Linked DNA regions of Homo sapiens. The protein of the gene in region 1 binds, or shares a complex with, the protein of each later gene. Each region holds a gene or a part of one and is shown in the gene's direction. Other genes may lie near its edges.

Region 1 (8,336 bases):
CCCGGATCACAGGCCCCTAGGTGGCCGGCTGGACAGCGTGTGTGAGTCCTGAAGGGGCTGGACTGGGTTTCGGCTGCTCCGGGGTTCAGATGCTGGCTGTGATGGGGAGGGATGGGCTGGTCCCCAGGTCACCGGCAGAACCTTCAGGCGGGGCAGGCAGAAGGCTCAGGTGGTAGAGCCTGCGGCAGATCACAGGCCTGTGGGGACTGGGCTCTCAGAAGGGCTGGGGGCTGCAGCTGAAATGTCCAGGTGGGGGCAGGGTGGCTGTGCTGTGGGCCTGTCACTAGGGAGGGCAGCGCCCCTCGGCTGGGGCACTGGAGACTGGCAGCTGTGAGGCACAGGGCCCGCTCACACTTCCCTCCTGAAGAAGTGTCACTCGGTTTTGCTCTGGGGACACGTGAAAGTGCCAGGCCTCCCCACACCCTCCCTGGGCCTGGGGCAGCAGGGGCAGAGGCAGAGGTGGCAGTGACTGCAAAGGGCTTGTCAGGGGCCTCTGAGCATTGGGCTTTCAGAGGGCACCGAGCCAGGGCCACGGTGTTCGGGTGGGGGCAGGACGGGTGACTGGGGCCCTGCAGCTGGCAAGCCCCATTAGCAGGAAGGAAGCCCCATTTCGCAGGAAGCAACAGAGGTGGGCAGCTGTGTGGTGCTCAGCTTGGCTGCTCCTGTGCCCCAGCTGTCATACTTATTCTGGGGCCCACAGAGGTGCCTGGCCTCCTCCCTCCCTGCTAAGGCAGTGGCAGCTGGACCCAGGCTGCTCAGGGATCAGAAGCCTGTGGGATTCCACGTGGGCTCCAGTGGGGCCTTGGTACAGTCTCCAGGAGCAAACTGTGGGCCTCTGGAGGCCCAGAGGGGACAGGCGCTCTCCTGTGGGCAGGATCCTAAGGGCCCACAGCAGAGGTGTAGATGCCAGGGACCCCTCACTCACTCACCCCTTCCCTGTGTTAGGGAGGCTCTCACTCATTCACCCCTTCCCCGTGTTAGGGATCCTCTCACTCACTCACACCTTCCCCGTGTTAGGGATCCTCTCACTCACTCACCCCTTCCCCGTGTTGGGGAATCTCTCACTCACTCACCCCTTCCCCGTGTTGGTGAATCTCTCACTCACTCACCCCTTCCCCGTGTTAGGAGCCTCTCCTGGCTCCCACCTTTTCTCTTCTCTTCTCTCCATGTCCTCATGTTTCTCAGGTGAACCCCAGCATCCTCTTGGAAGATCCACTTGACCTGTTGGTATTTACTCGCTATTTTGGGTCCTCTTAGTGAGTAGGCAGACTCCAGCCCTTTCCATTCAGCCAACTTGAACCTCAGCCCCCAGTCATTTTCTTGCACTTTTTACTCTTGGGAAATCCAGTCCCAATGTGCTTGTCTTTCATTGGACAATAATTTTCATTTTCTCCAGTAGTTTTAAAATTACTTTGTATCTATTCTAGGTATCTTTTACTCTATCATAGTTAAGACATTGATGTTATTTATGAATTTGTTCACGTTAAACTCATGTTCTTTCTTCATTTCTATAAAAATGTCAACCATTTTCTTTGCAAGTATTTACTGAATAACATACTCCTTATTTCCTTCATTCTGAAAGTGTGATCCAAAGAGAGATATCTGTTTCCTCTTTTCATTCCATTTCTTGTGTGCATTAATTATCTTTTCTATTTTTTTCATTTCTAGTTTTTCTCTGATGACTAATGAAAAATTTTAGTAAATATTCTACACCAATACAATGTTTATCATTTCAGCTGTGTCTTGTTCTGGATGAAATTATTTCTAAATGTGTTAATATAATTTACTATTTTCACATCACAATAGCTTCCTAATTCATTTCTACAATTGCCTGTTTTTTCTCTAACGGACTCTTTGATTTTTATTCCTCTGGGGTGGGTTTTTCTCCCACACACCTGATCTTCCATATAGGGTTTCTCCCCAGGCTGACTCAGGAAGGAAAGCTGATGAGGGCATTGCTGTAGCCGCTCCTGCCCTGCGGTGTCCATGCTCCCAAGCTTAGAATCACCTCTGTGTTATGCCCGGCATGGCGGGGTCCATGTGAGCCTCACACTCCAGGGTCAGAGATGCCCGGTCCAACAATGATAAAGCGCATCTGTGTCATGCACACCCGGGAAGGTGGCTCAGTGCTGAGTGTAGCCCGGGTCACTGAGTCATCCCAGGGTCTGTCCACAAACACAGAAGAGGGGGAGTCACAGTCTCTAAGGTCCCACAGTTTCCTCCACTTTTTTCCTTGTTCTGAGAGTGAGACAAAGGGCCATGACTGTTCTGTGGGTTGGACAGATGCATGTTTCCACCTGCAGGCTGGAACCCAAGCTGAGGTCTTGAGCATCCCCAAGTACTGATAAAGCACTTTAGGTTGTTTCTAGAAAACACTGAAAAATTAACCCTTTTGCTAAAAGTGTAGAAACAAGCCCTCCCCTGAACCAAATTCCTGAAACTCTCAGGTTAAACTTCGTAACCCCATCCCTTCACTGCAGACTCCCAATAGAAAAGTTACAGGTGCAAGGATGAGATGACTTTGGTCAAACTCAGACCCCACAGGGCCAGGAAGGCCTGAAGGAGAGGAGGCCCATGCTTCCACGTCTCAGATAAGAACTGTTTCTAAGGACTTTTAAAAAACCCATAAGAAACTCTTCCATGTCCTTCAGCCCCTTCTGCTTTGACAAGGTTTATCACTAGATGTTCTTTAGGACGTCAGGAATTCAGATAAGATGCTCTCAAGAGAACCATTGACCAGCAACAGCATCTCCTCCAATGGACTGACAGCAACTCTGGCTTTGAACCTGTGGAACCAGGGAACTCTGTTTCCAGGCAGCTCTGTCAGGCTCTCCCTTGTTGCTGATAAGAACTTCCTTTACCTCTCTATGTACAGAGAGCTCTCTCTACGGTGCTTTTCCTCTACTCTCACGTCACAGGAATCATCAACACAGAAAAAGACTTCTAGGACCAGATGTATGGGGTTTTTTTCCCCAGACGCAGTAGCGAACAGCAGCTGGGTGTCCTCTAAGTCAGCTCTGGTGCTGTCTACCCAGAGACAGTCCCGGATCCCACAGATTGAAGGCCCATTCCCCAAAACTGCCCCCAACACCATTCCCAAGTCCAGACCTCCAGAACTTCTGACTGACTGGCTTCAAGTTGGGGATCCCATGCCCCACTCTTTGGGTTTGATTAATTTGCTGTAGCAGCTCACAGAACTCAGGAAACACTGACATTTCCTGGTTGAATACAAAGCACACTGCAGAGGACACAGATGAAGAAACTCATAGGAGGAGGCATGGGGGAAGAGGCCCGGGGCTTCCATACCCTCCCTGGGCGTCGCCCTCCAGGAGCCTTAGCATGCTCAGCCACCCAGAAACTCATGAAACCCAGTCCTCTGGGGCTTTTATGAAAGCTTCATGACATCAGCATTTCCTCCCACAAGGAACAGGGTGAGACTGTCTTCTGGGAGGGTCTTAAGATCCACTATCAGAAAGGCAGGGAACATTCGAGTCTTACTTTGGGTTAGGTGAAGGAAGGGCAGGAGGAGGTCAGAGGCCTCCCCTGAGGCCCAGCACAGCCAATGTTATAACAAAAGACTATAACAAGGGCTATGGGAGTTACAAGCCAGGAACTGCGGGTGAAAACCAGCATATATCACAACATCACACTTCCCTCTCTGGACACACTGTGGCTTGCCATGCCATGCACTCCATATTGTAATCCTTGCTTCTCACTCCCAAATAAACTCAAAATCCAGGCAACCCTGGAGCAATGCAGCCTTGAATTCCAGGGGTCTCTTATATGCACACTTTTTCCAAACAAACGGGGATCAAAACTATAGCATTTGTGAGAAACAAGACTTGCGTATATGAACGGCAGACTTTTCCTATATGCAGACCCAGCAGAGACAACGTCAGGGCTGGAGTACGAGCAAGTGTTGGTACATGTAGGGGGTACTGAAACGAATTGCCTGTGTATCCCAAGAAACAACTGTACTGAGAGATCATATTTTCTAGGGGTTTATTTTTGGTTTTGTTTTTATTTTAGGTTAAAGCTTTGGATAGAATACCCAGTGTCTCCTTGTCCATCTGAAGAACATGCTGCTATGTGGAAGCACATCCTTGAGATCCACAAGGAGACACTGGGCAAGAAGACAAGGATGCCCCACTGTGCAGAGGTCCCCCTAATAAATGCTCTATGAACACCCTGGTGTTTAGTGCTTCTTTCCTTGGAATTCCAGCAGGTCTGGACAGTTTGGTGCACTCCCTTGAGGGAATTCCCCTGGGCTGCTTGGGGTCCACTCCAGCCTCAGGTGTAGCTAGAGGACGCAGCCTCCCACCTTGGTCTGGAGCCCTGAGCCCCTCACTGTCATTGCAGATCCCGGGGTTCCTCTCCCGGCTCCACTCAGTGGTGGAAACCTCCACCCTAATGAGCCCTTGATGGTCCCGGGACCCTGTGGCATCTCACCTCTGGCCTCTGTTCTTTCTTGTGAGTCCGTCTACACTTGGGGTTTCCACATGTCTTTTTCTGCTCATGACCTTGATACTCTGGGTATTTCAGAAATGCTACACATACGTTTCTCCATTACGGTCAGATGTGACATCTTGAGTGGACTCATCAATCACCTACAGAATGTGGAGTCCAACAGCAAGATCCTCTCACGTCCCAAAGCCTCAGGTCTTACCCTGGTCTGGAAATCAAGCACAAATGAGCCCCTCCCAATGTCCCAGGCACCACTGACCCCACAACCACTGTGACGAGTGGGATTCATGACAACAATCTGCAAAGGAAGAAACTGAGGCTCAGTGATGGGACATTACAAACCAAGGTCACGTAGGCAGCGGATGATAACCAGTCATCAAATAAATATCAACTCCCTCCCCCACTCCCCAAATCAAAGCTCAAACATAAGTCATTGTTCCCAAAATGTTGACCAGGAATTGAGGTGCAGAGGGACGGCTAAGGACGCAATGGGCACCGAGGAGGCAGGAAAGACTCAGAGGTTTCTTCCCGGGGGGGAGGGAGTGGACGCTGGAGCAAAAACATTTAAAAAGGGGAAGTTAAGAGGGGACTATTTGGTTGAAAGAAAACCCACAATCCAGTGTCAAGAAAGAAGTCAACTTTTCTTCCCCTACTTCCCTGCATTTCTCCTCTGTGCTCACTGCCACACACAGCTCAACCTGGACAGCACAGCCAGAGGCGAGATGCTTCTCTGCTGATCTGAGTCTGCCTGCAGCATGGACCTGGGTCTTCCCTGAAGCATCTCCAGGGCTGGAGGGACGACTGCCATGGTAAGGACCCCACAACGCTGTGCTGATGGATGGGCTGAAGGAGGGAGGGTGACCATGTGGGAAGCTGTGAGAAGGAAGGGGAAGCCACTGCTACCCTCATCAGGAAGGGCAGACACAAGAAGCACCAGTTCTATTTGCTGCTACATCCCGGCTCTCGGTGAGACGAGGAGAAACCAGACAGACAGTGGCTGGGGGTCAGGAAAGACCCCATTACAGTCTGAAATGTCTGCAGAGGGCCCAGTGCCTGCCCCCACCTCAGCTCTAAAAGAATGAGAGTCAGGCTCCTGGGAGGGCAGTTCCGCTTCTTGTGTGGCTGCAGATGACAACACCCCATGAGAAGGACCCAGCCTCTGAGTGTCCACACAGGGTGGGAAGGAGGGGAGGCTATTTCTCTCTGTGTGTCTCTGTCCCGCCAGCACCGAGGGCTCATCCATCCGCAGAGCAGGGCAGTGGGAGGAGACGCCATGACCCCCATCGTCACAGTCCTGATCTGTCTCGGTGAGATTTGAAGAGAGAGGGGAGCTTCTAACCTAGGAGGGACCTCACCCCACAGCCAAACTCTGGTCCCTAAGGAGACCCCAGGGGCTCACAAAGATCCCAGGGAGGGGAGGACCTGCTCAGGCTTCAGGGGGCAAATCCCTCACAGGGAACTCTCTTCCAGGGCTGAGTCTGGGCCCCAGGACCCGCGTGCAGACAGGTGAGTCTGTCCCCAGCTCTCCCAGGTCCCTCCTCCTCACTGGGGACAAGGGGCCACCTCCGTGCAGCTGGGGATGGGGATTAGAAGTTCTGGACTGACTGATGGGGGCATCTGGAGGGTCCTGGGCTGAGAGCTGAGATCTGTTGGGTGGGAAATGACTTCGAATCTGACCTTTGATTTCCTTCCAGGGACCATCCCCAAGCCCACCCTGTGGGCTGAGCCAGACTCTGTGATCACCCAGGGGAGTCCCGTCACCCTCAGTTGTCAGGGGAGCCTTGAAGCCCAGGAGTACCGTCTATATAGGGAGAAAAAATCAGCATCTTGGATTACACGGATACGACCAGAGCTTGTGAAGAACGGCCAGTTCCACATCCCATCCATCACCTGGGAACACACAGGGCGATATGGCTGTCAGTATTACAGCCGCGCTCGGTGGTCTGAGCTCAGTGACCCCCTGGTGCTGGTGATGACAGGTGAGAGGACACTCAGGGATCCCAGCCCCAGGCTCTGCCCTCAGGAAGGAGGCTCTCAGGGGTGTCTCCCTCTCACAGCCCAGCCCTGGGGATGATGTGGGAGGTGGGAGCCCCATTTAACACGATGCCTCCTTCTCTCCTAGGAGCCTACCCAAAACCCACCCTCTCAGCCCAGCCCAGCCCTGTGGTGACCTCAGGAGGAAGGGTGACCCTCCAGTGTGAGTCACAGGTGGCATTTGGCGGCTTCATTCTGTGTAAGGAAGGAGAAGATGAACACCCACAATGCCTGAACTCCCAGCCCCATGCCCGTGGGTCGTCCCGCGCCATCTTCTCCGTGGGCCCCGTGAGCCCGAATCGCAGGTGGTCGCACAGGTGCTATGGTTATGACTTGAACTCTCCCTATGTGTGGTCTTCACCCAGTGATCTCCTGGAGCTCCTGGTCCCAGGTGAGAAATTCACAGCATTGTCTGGAGTTCCCTGAGTCTCCCTGAGTCTCCAGGCAGGTGGGGAGCAGCCGTGTCTCAGGGCAGTTCCAGGTGGGATGATGTTGGGGCGAGAGGGCTCAGGGGTCCTGGGGCCAGAGACACAGGAAGATCAGCAGTGGTGAGGCACCGGGGGAGAGGGAGGGTTTGTGGGGAAGCCTGAGGGTCGGCTCCTGGAAACCATGAGCACCTTTTCCCAGGTGTTTCTAAGAAGCCATCACTCTCAGTGCAGCCGGGTCCTGTCATGGCCCCTGGGGAAAGCCTGACCCTCCAGTGTGTCTCTGATGTCGGCTATGACAGATTTGTTCTGTACAAGGAGGGGGAACGTGACCTTCGCCAGCTCCCTGGCCGGCAGCCCCAGGCTGGGCTCTCCCAGGCCAACTTCACCCTGGGCCCTGTGAGCCGCTCCTACGGGGGCCAGTACAGATGCTACGGTGCACACAACCTCTCCTCTGAGTGCTCGGCCCCCAGCGACCCCCTGGACATCCTGATCACAGGTGAGGAGCCCAGCGGGTTCAGTCAGGGACCCAGACTCTGCACAGGCCCTGCCGGGGGAATCCAATTAGTGATGGCCAGGATGAGGCGGGGGGTGGTCCCAAGGGAGGGAGAGACAGAGAGAGAGACAGGGGATGGGTGGGGAGGGGAAGACTCAGAGAAAACAGAGACAGAGGCTCCTAGAGAGGCCTGGGGAGGTCTCAGCTCAGAGCAAGGTGGGGCAGCCCCTCACCCATCCTTCTTCTCTCCAGGACAGATCCGTGGCACACCCTTCATCTCAGTGCAGCCAGGCCCCACAGTGGCCTCAGGAGAGAACGTGACCCTGCTGTGTCAGTCATGGCGGCAGTTCCACACTTTCCTTCTGACCAAGGCGGGAGCAGCTGATGCCCCACTCCGTCTAAGATCAATACACGAATATCCTAAGTACCAGGCTGAATTCCCCATGAGTCCTGTGACCTCAGCCCACGCGGGGACCTACAGGTGCTACGGCTCACTCAACTCCGACCCCTACCTGCTGTCTCACCCCAGTGAGCCCCTGGAGCTCGTGGTCTCAGGTGGGGGCCTTGACCCTGTCCTCTCTGAGCTCAAAGGCTCAGCTCAGGCCCTGCCCCCCAGGAGAGCTCTGGGCTGGGATGGAGTGAGCGGGGGTCTGAGCGGGGCTCAGCCAGTGGGAGACTCACCCTCAGAGGGAAGGAGGACAACAGGCCCTCCCAGGCCTGCGCACACTCAGCGGCATCGCCAGCATCATGGACAGGAGAGGCGGGTGGAGGGAGGGGCCTGGGGAGGCCACAGGGCCCATGTAGAGAAATTTGGTTTGAGGTGGAGACTTCAGGAAAGCCCCAGCTCCTCACCCTCCTCTCATTCTTTCACCCAGGACCCTCCATGGGTTCCAGCCCCCCACCCACCGGTCCCATCT
Region 2 (7,737 bases), on another chromosome or scaffold:
CAGCAGGGCTAGGGGACTTGATGTGGCATGGGAGACCCCTGTCTTTTCTTTTTTTTTTTTTGAGATGGAGTCTCACTCTGTCGCCCATGCTAGAGTGCAGTGGTGCGATCTCTGCTCACTGCAAGCTCTGCCTCCCAGGTTCACACCATTCTCCTGCCTCAGCCTCCCGAGTAGCTGGGACTACAGGCGACCACCACCACGCCCGGCTAATTTTTTGTATTTTTAGTAGAGACGGGGTTTCACCATGTTATCCAGGCTGGTCTCGATCTCCTGACCTCATGATCTGCCCACCTTGGCCTCCCAAAGTGCTGGGATTACAGGCGTGAGCCACTGCGCCTGGCCTCTTTTCTTAAATTATAGGTTTATTTGGGATTACTTAAGACAGCTGATGGCCATTATGCGTGTGTAGTAAAAGTACTCTAATGCCCCAACAAGTGACAAGTCACTTCTTGGTTCCACCACTGCTGATTTCATTGAATCCTCACAATAATCCTGTAAGGCAGAATTGGTTATTACCTCCATTTTCTATGAGAAATCCCAGACTTAGAGAAGTTAATAATTTGGTCAAAGGTCACATAGGTAGGAAATGTCAGAGCCTCATTTGAAAATAAGTTTGACTCCTGAACCCATGTTCTTTGCTACAGTATTCTACTCCCATTTGTACAAGGACTAGCCTTGGCCAAAAATTGGCAAATGGATTTTACCTACCCACAGAAAAGGGCTCAAATCAAACTCGACACAGACACAGACACAGACACACACACACACACACACACACACACACACACTTCTACTGAATTAAAAAAGAAATAGCCAAGGGGAAACTACTGATTAAATATAATAAAATATATTATGTTGAAAACAACATTATTTAACAAACAAGACCCTTTTGCTAACTTGATAATTCATCATTTGGTTTTTAAGGATGAATTGCACTAACTGCAAATGAGTCAGATTCCTCAGAGGGGCCTTAAAATACATATAATAAATCAGGTATTAAAAAGCCAAACACATAAAGGGATTTATAATGAACAGGATAAGCACAACCCACTCTGAAAAGTGCGGCCTGAGATTTAAGTTTAGACTATTGCTCAGAGGTGAGGCTTGTTTTTCCACAAAGAGAATGCGAGGGATTCTCCCTACCTCAGTGCCTCCCAGCTTAGTGGGGCAGTCTTACCTGTCCTTGAAGATCTTGGCATAATTGAATCTATTAAAAATTTTAAGGACTATTAAAGCTATGCTATTAAAAACTGCATATTAATATTGGAAAATATAAATTTGAAAAGAATTTACAAAATACTATTAGGACGTAAAACCCTTTTTTGGTAAAATGAACAAATAAAGGTATGCTTATATGCAGACATATGTAGTCAGCAAAACCACTGAAAAGAAATACACTAAAATATGTTAACAGCAAATTTTTTCCTTTCTTCCTCCCTCCTTCTCTCTCTCCTTCCTTCCTTCCTTCCCTTCTTTCTTTCTGTTGCCATGGTTGTAGTACAGTGGCGTCTCAGCTCACTGCAGCCTTGACCTCCCTGGCTCAAGCAATCCTCCCACCTCAGCCACCTAAGTAGCTGAGACTACAGGCGCATGCACCACACCTGGCTAATTTTTTGTATTTTTAGTACAGATAGGGGTTTCACCATGTTGCCCAGGCTGGTCTTGAACTCCTGGGCTCAAGCAATTTGCCCACGTCAGCCTCCCAAAGTTGGGATTACAGGTGTGAGCCACCATGCCCGGCCAACAGCAATTTTTTCTGATGGGTGATTTTTATCTTATCACTCTCTGGGTTTTTTATATGTATTTGCCCTGTACTCTGGATTAAATTTACTAATTTGCAATTAGAATACAATGACTTAAAAAATGAAAGACATCGGTCAGGTGTGGTGGCTCACGCCTGTAATCCCAGCACTTTGGGAGGCCAAGGTGGGTGGATCCTGAGGTCAGGAGTTCAAGACCAGCCTGGCCAACATGGGAAAACCCCATCTCTACTAAAAAGACAAAAATTAGCTGGGTGTGTAATCCCAGCTACTCAGGAGGCTGAGTCAGGAGAATTGCTTGAACCTGGGAGGCGGAGGTTGCAGTGAGCCGAGATGGCACCACTGCACTTCAGCCTAGGCGACAGAGTGAGACTCTGTCTCAAAAAAAAGAAAGACATCGTTGACATACCTACATTTTTTTTTTTTTTTGAGATGGAGCCTTGCTCTGTCACCCAGGCTGGAGTGCAGTGGCACAATCTCAGCTCACTGCAACCTCTACCTCCTGGGTTCACACCATTCTCCTGCCTCAGCCTCCCGAGTAGCTGGGACTACAGGCACTCACCACCACGCCTGGCTAATTTTTTGTATTTTTAGTAGAGACAGGGTTTCACCATGTTCCAGGATGGTCTCGATCTCCTGACCTCGTGATCTGCCCGCCTCGGCCTCCCAAAGTGCTGGGATTACAGGCGTGAGCCACCGCGCCCGGCCTCATACCTACTTTTTAATGTCAGTACAGCAGGTTATGGTATGGAATGCATTTTGGAACAAGATATTAACAAAAATTCAAAGGAAAAAATACATGGCCATGGAATTCCAGTGCTGAGAGACATTTGGGAATATTGGGGGAGTTTTCCAAAAGAGAAATCCAGGTGACTGTATTTGTTAAATGAGTAACAAAAGGAAAAACAATGTAAAGAAACAGAAAGGAAAGGAAGAGAGAAATACAAAGATCTGAGAAGAGAAGGTGCCAGGGGCCGCTGAGAGATTGCCAAATGTTAATTTCATTATTTGGCTTCTTATTTTATTCTGGGTAAAGGTAGACCTATTAGTTTCCTGTTGCTGCTATAACAAATTACCACCAACTTAGTGGCCTCGAACAATGCAAATTTATTCTTTCAAAGTTCTGGAGGACAGAAGTCCAAAAATGTGTCCTATCAGCTGAAATCAAAGTGTTGTGTTCCTTCTGGAGGCTCTAAGGAGAATCTGTTCCTTCTCTTTTCTAGTTCTAGAGGCCATCTGCGTTCCTTGGCTCATGTCCTTCTTTCAGCAATGGCATCATCACTCTGACCTTTGCTTCCATTGTCACATCTCCTTGACTCTGACCCTTTTGCCTCCCTCTAATAAGGCCCCTCTGATTACACTGGGTCCACCAGATAATCCAGGATAGCTCTCTGTCTCAAGATCCTTAATTTAATCATATCTGCCAAGGGTTTTGTTTTGTTTTATTTTGTTTTTGCCATTTAAGGTAATATATCCACAGGTTCTGGCAATTAGGTTGTGGACATCTTTGGGGCGACAATTCTCAACCTACCATACAACCGGTACATAAGGTTCTACTACCTACTAAATGCATCATAAACAGAACTTCTGATCCTTCAACAACTCTGTGAAATATATGACAGGATTTGCTTTTAAAGTTGAAGAAATCAGGCCTTGGTGCAATTTGGGATTCTGCCCATGGTCAAATAGTGGGGAGGCAAACCCAGGTCCCTGAACCCAGCTCAAGCCTGCCTGCCTCATGGCCATGCCTCCATTCACCTCTCCCCTTCATGTCTACTTCCTCTTTCCTGTCTGGGCCTGTTCCCTAGCTCCCTGGACAAGCTTAAGCTGCTGTTTTCCAGCTTGTCATGTGCTCCTTATGACAGTGTAGCCACAGCTTGATCTTGGGGATTGCTGATTGAGCAAGCTGAGTGGCTGCCCCTCAGAATCTTCTGTAGGCCTTTCTCTTGCCTTCTTTTATTCAGTAAGTGTTTTGAGCTTATTGTGCTGGGTGCTAGAGTAGCAGGGAGGACAGACCTAAGTTGAAGATTACGGGACAATCTAAGTGACACCTGCTATCTCAGACAGAGACTTCAGCATCATAGGGAGCCAGAGCAGGGAGTTCCAAGCCGTGGGAACTGTGACTCTTTCTTACTGACCCTTAAGCAAAATTCTAAGCTCCAGGGAAGCAGAGGCAGCAGCTTGAGCTCCCTGATTGACCAGATATGATTAATCTTTGTTTCTCTGTGCTTTGAACATGACTATGCTCCATAAATATTTAAAAATTGGGAATAGGGTGAAGATAGATACACCAAAAGGAGCAAGCAGTGTCTGAAACCAGCAAAGACTTAAAAGTTACCGAAGAAGGTGTTCATGCTTTCATTTTATCTTTTTTTTTTAACCTAGCAACTGATGACACTGCATATCTTCCCCTGTTCTTATTGGGAGAAGGCCTTGTGTGTCACCAAGAGGTTCTCAGAAGGGACCTGTCAGTTTTTGGTTAAAAGAACCCGGAAAGAGAAGGACTATGGGGGAACTGATGGCGTTCCTGTTACCTCTCATCATTGTGTTAATGGTGAAGCACAGCGATTCCCGTGAGTATCCCACGTCCTCTTCTCTCCTAACTCCAAAGTCGAGGCAGCCTAGAAGGCACAGCTTTTCTTCCTAAAACTTGTGGTGAAAAATATAGAAGCCAGGGGCAGAAACGTGTATGTATTACACTCAGACTCCAGGAGCAATGGATTGCCTGAACAGTTTCCCAGTTCATATTTGTAGGATTTTGATGTCACCACCTTCTGAGGGAGGGGGAGCCGTTCTAGAAAGACTCTGGAACTTCCTCACTTTCCCTCTGAGCATGGCCTCCTTTCTTTTCTGCTCATATTTTTTCTTTTACTTTTGTTTCTCCTCTTTTCTAACTTCCAGAGTCTCATGAGGATGTAGTCAGAGTTTCAGGGGCATTAACAGTGGAGTAGATCCATTGTTCAGGTTTATTTATGTTTTTCCTCAACACAAGCCCTACCTGTAATAAAAGATCCAAGAAAGATAAAACCATGGCTCTGGGTTTGTTTACTGACTGTGAGAAGTATTAATCAAGTAGAAGGGAGAGTTTTTCATTATTCGGGGAGCTCAAGTCACTGGGGAAGCAAATGCCTTCTGTTGCCTCAAATAGGGGAAAGGGCCCATGGGCTAGAACCACCAGGCTTCTCTGCCCTAATCACTTGCTCCCTGGGCTGAGGACTGGTACTGGTGGGCAGTGTCCAGAACTTAGACTTGGCCACCACCATAGGTGTGACTGATGAACATGAGAGGAAGGAGTTCTTTCAAATCACCCATGCACATAGAGAGTGGAATGACTGACCATGGAGATTTGGAAGGGCGAGGGGGGTGGATGATTAGAAATTACTTAATGGGTACAATGTGTGTTACTTGGGTGATGGATACCTTAAAGCCCCAACTTGACCACTACACAATCTATGCTATAACAAAATTGCATGTGTACATCATAAATTTATACAAATAAAAAAATTTTAAATCATATGGCTGGGAGTGGTGGCTCACACCTGTAATCCTAGCACGTTGAGAGGCCGAGGCAGACGGATCGCTTGAGGTCAGGAGTTTGAAACCAGCTTGGCCATCATAGTGAAACCCCATCTCACTAAAAATACAAAAAATTAGCTCGGCACACCCATCTCTACTAAAAATACAAAAAATTAGCTGTGCACAGTGCGCACCTGTGATCCCAGCTACTCGGGAGACTGAGGCAGGAGAATCACTTGAACCCAGGAGGCGGAGGTTGCAGTGAGCCGAGATCATGCCACTGCACTCTAGCCTGGGTGACAGAGTGAGACTCCATCTCAAAAAAAAAAAATCCATATATTAATTGTTCAAATATTGATTGATGGCCTACTATGTGCCAGGCACTTTGGGGGATATGGCAGCGAACAAGACAAACATAGTCTCTGCTTCCATGAAAATTTAATCCAGAAAGTGTCATCATTTATGGGAAAGATTGGGGGTGAGGGTAAGAGGCAGAAGATGAAAGAGGAAAGGAGGAGAGAGGCAAAGGGTGATATTTTTGGAAATAATAAAGCTTATATATTACCTGCATGTGATTCTCAAAGAACTCTCCAATAATATGGAATAATATTCCTTAAACATATTATCTCCTATGACAATCTCACTGACTATTTGTAGTAGGTGAAGAAAATATCCCCATTTAAAGATGAGGCCTAGATTTTTCTCTAGGCCTAGAGAGTGACCACGCTCACATAAGGAGCAACCTGAAGGAGACTGCAGATCTTCTGGCCCTCGGTCCAGGGCTGTTCCACAATGTCATTGCTCCTTTGGGTGTGAAGACTTGTCACTTTGATAATTGGGGGGACAGGAAATAAAACAAGTAAGTTATAAAGGCAAGGGAAGGTCACTTGGTGCTGGCTGTTCTCCTTCTGACTCCTTAGAGTGCATCCTTCTCTGTTCTGTTCTGTGTCCTTGAGGCTGACTGCTAGACTGCATCACCTAGACTCTCTTGCAAGCTGATTTCTGCTTGGGTTCATACAATGGGAGACACTGAAAGGAGAGATGTCAGAGAGCAGGGAGGAAAGAGAGGCTGGGATACATCTTTCTTGCTCCTTCCCCACTTTCTGTGATGTCTTTGGCAGTAGCTATGTTCTTCTGTAATGCTGTCTTCCCTGAATAACCCCTTCTTCATGGTTCTAGCTCCCATTGGGCTTCAGTAACGGTATTTGCTATTCTTATCTCTTAAGCCCTAGGGGTGATAATGGCTTCCCATAGTTGTTAGCCTGCAGATGCCCATCATCCTTGTTTGTTCCGTTAACCTTGACCATATCTCTGCAAGGAGTCCCTTCATTAAGGTCTCCTCACATGACCCATCTGGCTTGAAGGCTGTTTCCTGCTAGGACCCTAACTGAACATTCCTGGGCTTTGAGGGATATTGGCTGGAAAAGGATATGAGATTATGAAAGAAGACTCAGTCTACTTGATATTTATGCCTAGTGCTAGCCCTGAGTGGGAGCTATATACCAGTAATAGATGGGGAAACACGGGGAAGAGATACTGCAGGGTTGTGGGTCATTACTCCAGGAAATGTCAACATAACTCCAATATCACTTTCAGTGTGTTGCTTTCATCAACTCCACAGCCTGCAGTTGACTCCTCCTTCCTTTGTGCTCCCATGGCTCCTGTTCACAGTTCTGTAATTTTCCATTTACAAAAATCTTCTCTTTGAGGCTCTCCTTAAAGACAGAAAGAGATATCTTCATTTTTTTCTTATTTCTCTGGTATACCTAGTGCCCAACAGGCACTTAGTAAATGTTTGCTGAGTGAATTTATGTTCGGAGGTAATGTCCCTAAGAAATCACAGTTATTTGACTGGGAGCCATAGAGAGCTCGGGCAGTAATAACGACTGCAAATTCAAAACTGTGGCTTACTGTAGTTGCAGGATTTGTATTAAAAAGGTGTTTCATGCTTTTACAACTCATCTTGTTCTTCATTTCAGCCTGTGTGAAACTGTGAATTGGCGATATGGGTGGGTGTAATCAGACTGGGGGCTGGCATGAGATTTCTCATGCATTGCCATATGTGATTTGTATGTTTCATCTCGACATAACCAAGGTCAGTCTCTTGATATTACTCATAATTTTATGGCTGTATAAATCTGCTATATCAATCTACTTCATGAATGGTGGAGTCCTTCACAGGCGAGGTCTGATGATGGATAAGCTCCCTAAGCTGCCAACTGGGTTACTGTTAAAAAACAGACTTGCATATTATCTGCTTAGAAGTGACCTTGAGTTCAAAGAGTTAACATGAGAAAATATGGGCTTTTTCTTTAGACTTTATTAGATAGACTTCAGTCTGTTTCCATGGAGCTGTTGCCAAGGTATATGCCATAGAAATTTCTCCAAGACAATGTTTCACTCCCCTAAGGCCCTCTTCTTAATTGGCATTGAATCTATCTAAACTTGAGAAATTCAACTA

The links.
Region 2: the proteins of LILRB2 (region 1) and MR1 are in contact, whole or in part, in a crystal structure (PDB 9C9D), measured with the Homo sapiens proteins. Residues at the interface, in NP_001074447.2 of Homo sapiens: Tyr61 (codon at 6,269), Arg62 (codon at 6,272), Glu63 (codon at 6,275), Lys64 (codon at 6,278), Gly97 (codon at 6,377), Gln99 (codon at 6,383), Leu109 (codon at 6,413); in NP_001372090.1 of Homo sapiens: Thr213, Phe214, Pro215, Glu267.

What each region holds. Positions count from the first base shown.
Region 1 is NC_000019.10:54,277,898-54,286,233, reverse strand, and holds the start of LILRB2 (leukocyte immunoglobulin-like receptor subfamily B member 2 isoform 2 precursor), read left to right. Parts: upstream 1-5,123; 5' UTR 5,124-5,273; intron 5,274-5,350; exon of another isoform or gene 5,351-5,430; intron 5,431-5,605; exon of another isoform or gene 5,606-5,689; 5' UTR 5,690-5,737; coding exon 5,738-5,771; intron 5,772-5,934; coding exon 5,935-5,970; intron 5,971-6,158; coding exon 6,159-6,443; intron 6,444-6,586; coding exon 6,587-6,889; intron 6,890-7,125; coding exon 7,126-7,422; intron 7,423-7,671; coding exon 7,672-7,974; intron 7,975-8,294; coding exon 8,295-8,336. UniProt on the Homo sapiens protein: Receptor for class I MHC antigens. Recognizes a broad spectrum of HLA-A, HLA-B, HLA-C, HLA-G and HLA-F alleles. Involved in the down-regulation of the immune response and the development of tolerance.
Region 2 is NC_000001.11:181,029,742-181,037,478, forward strand, and holds the start of MR1 (major histocompatibility complex class I-related protein 1 isoform 1 precursor), read left to right. Parts: upstream 1-4,241; 5' UTR 4,242-4,266; coding exon 4,267-4,333; intron 4,334-7,255; exon of another isoform or gene 7,256-7,371; intron 7,372-7,737. UniProt on the Homo sapiens protein: Antigen-presenting molecule specialized in displaying microbial pyrimidine-based metabolites to alpha-beta T cell receptors (TCR) on innate-type mucosal-associated invariant T (MAIT) cells.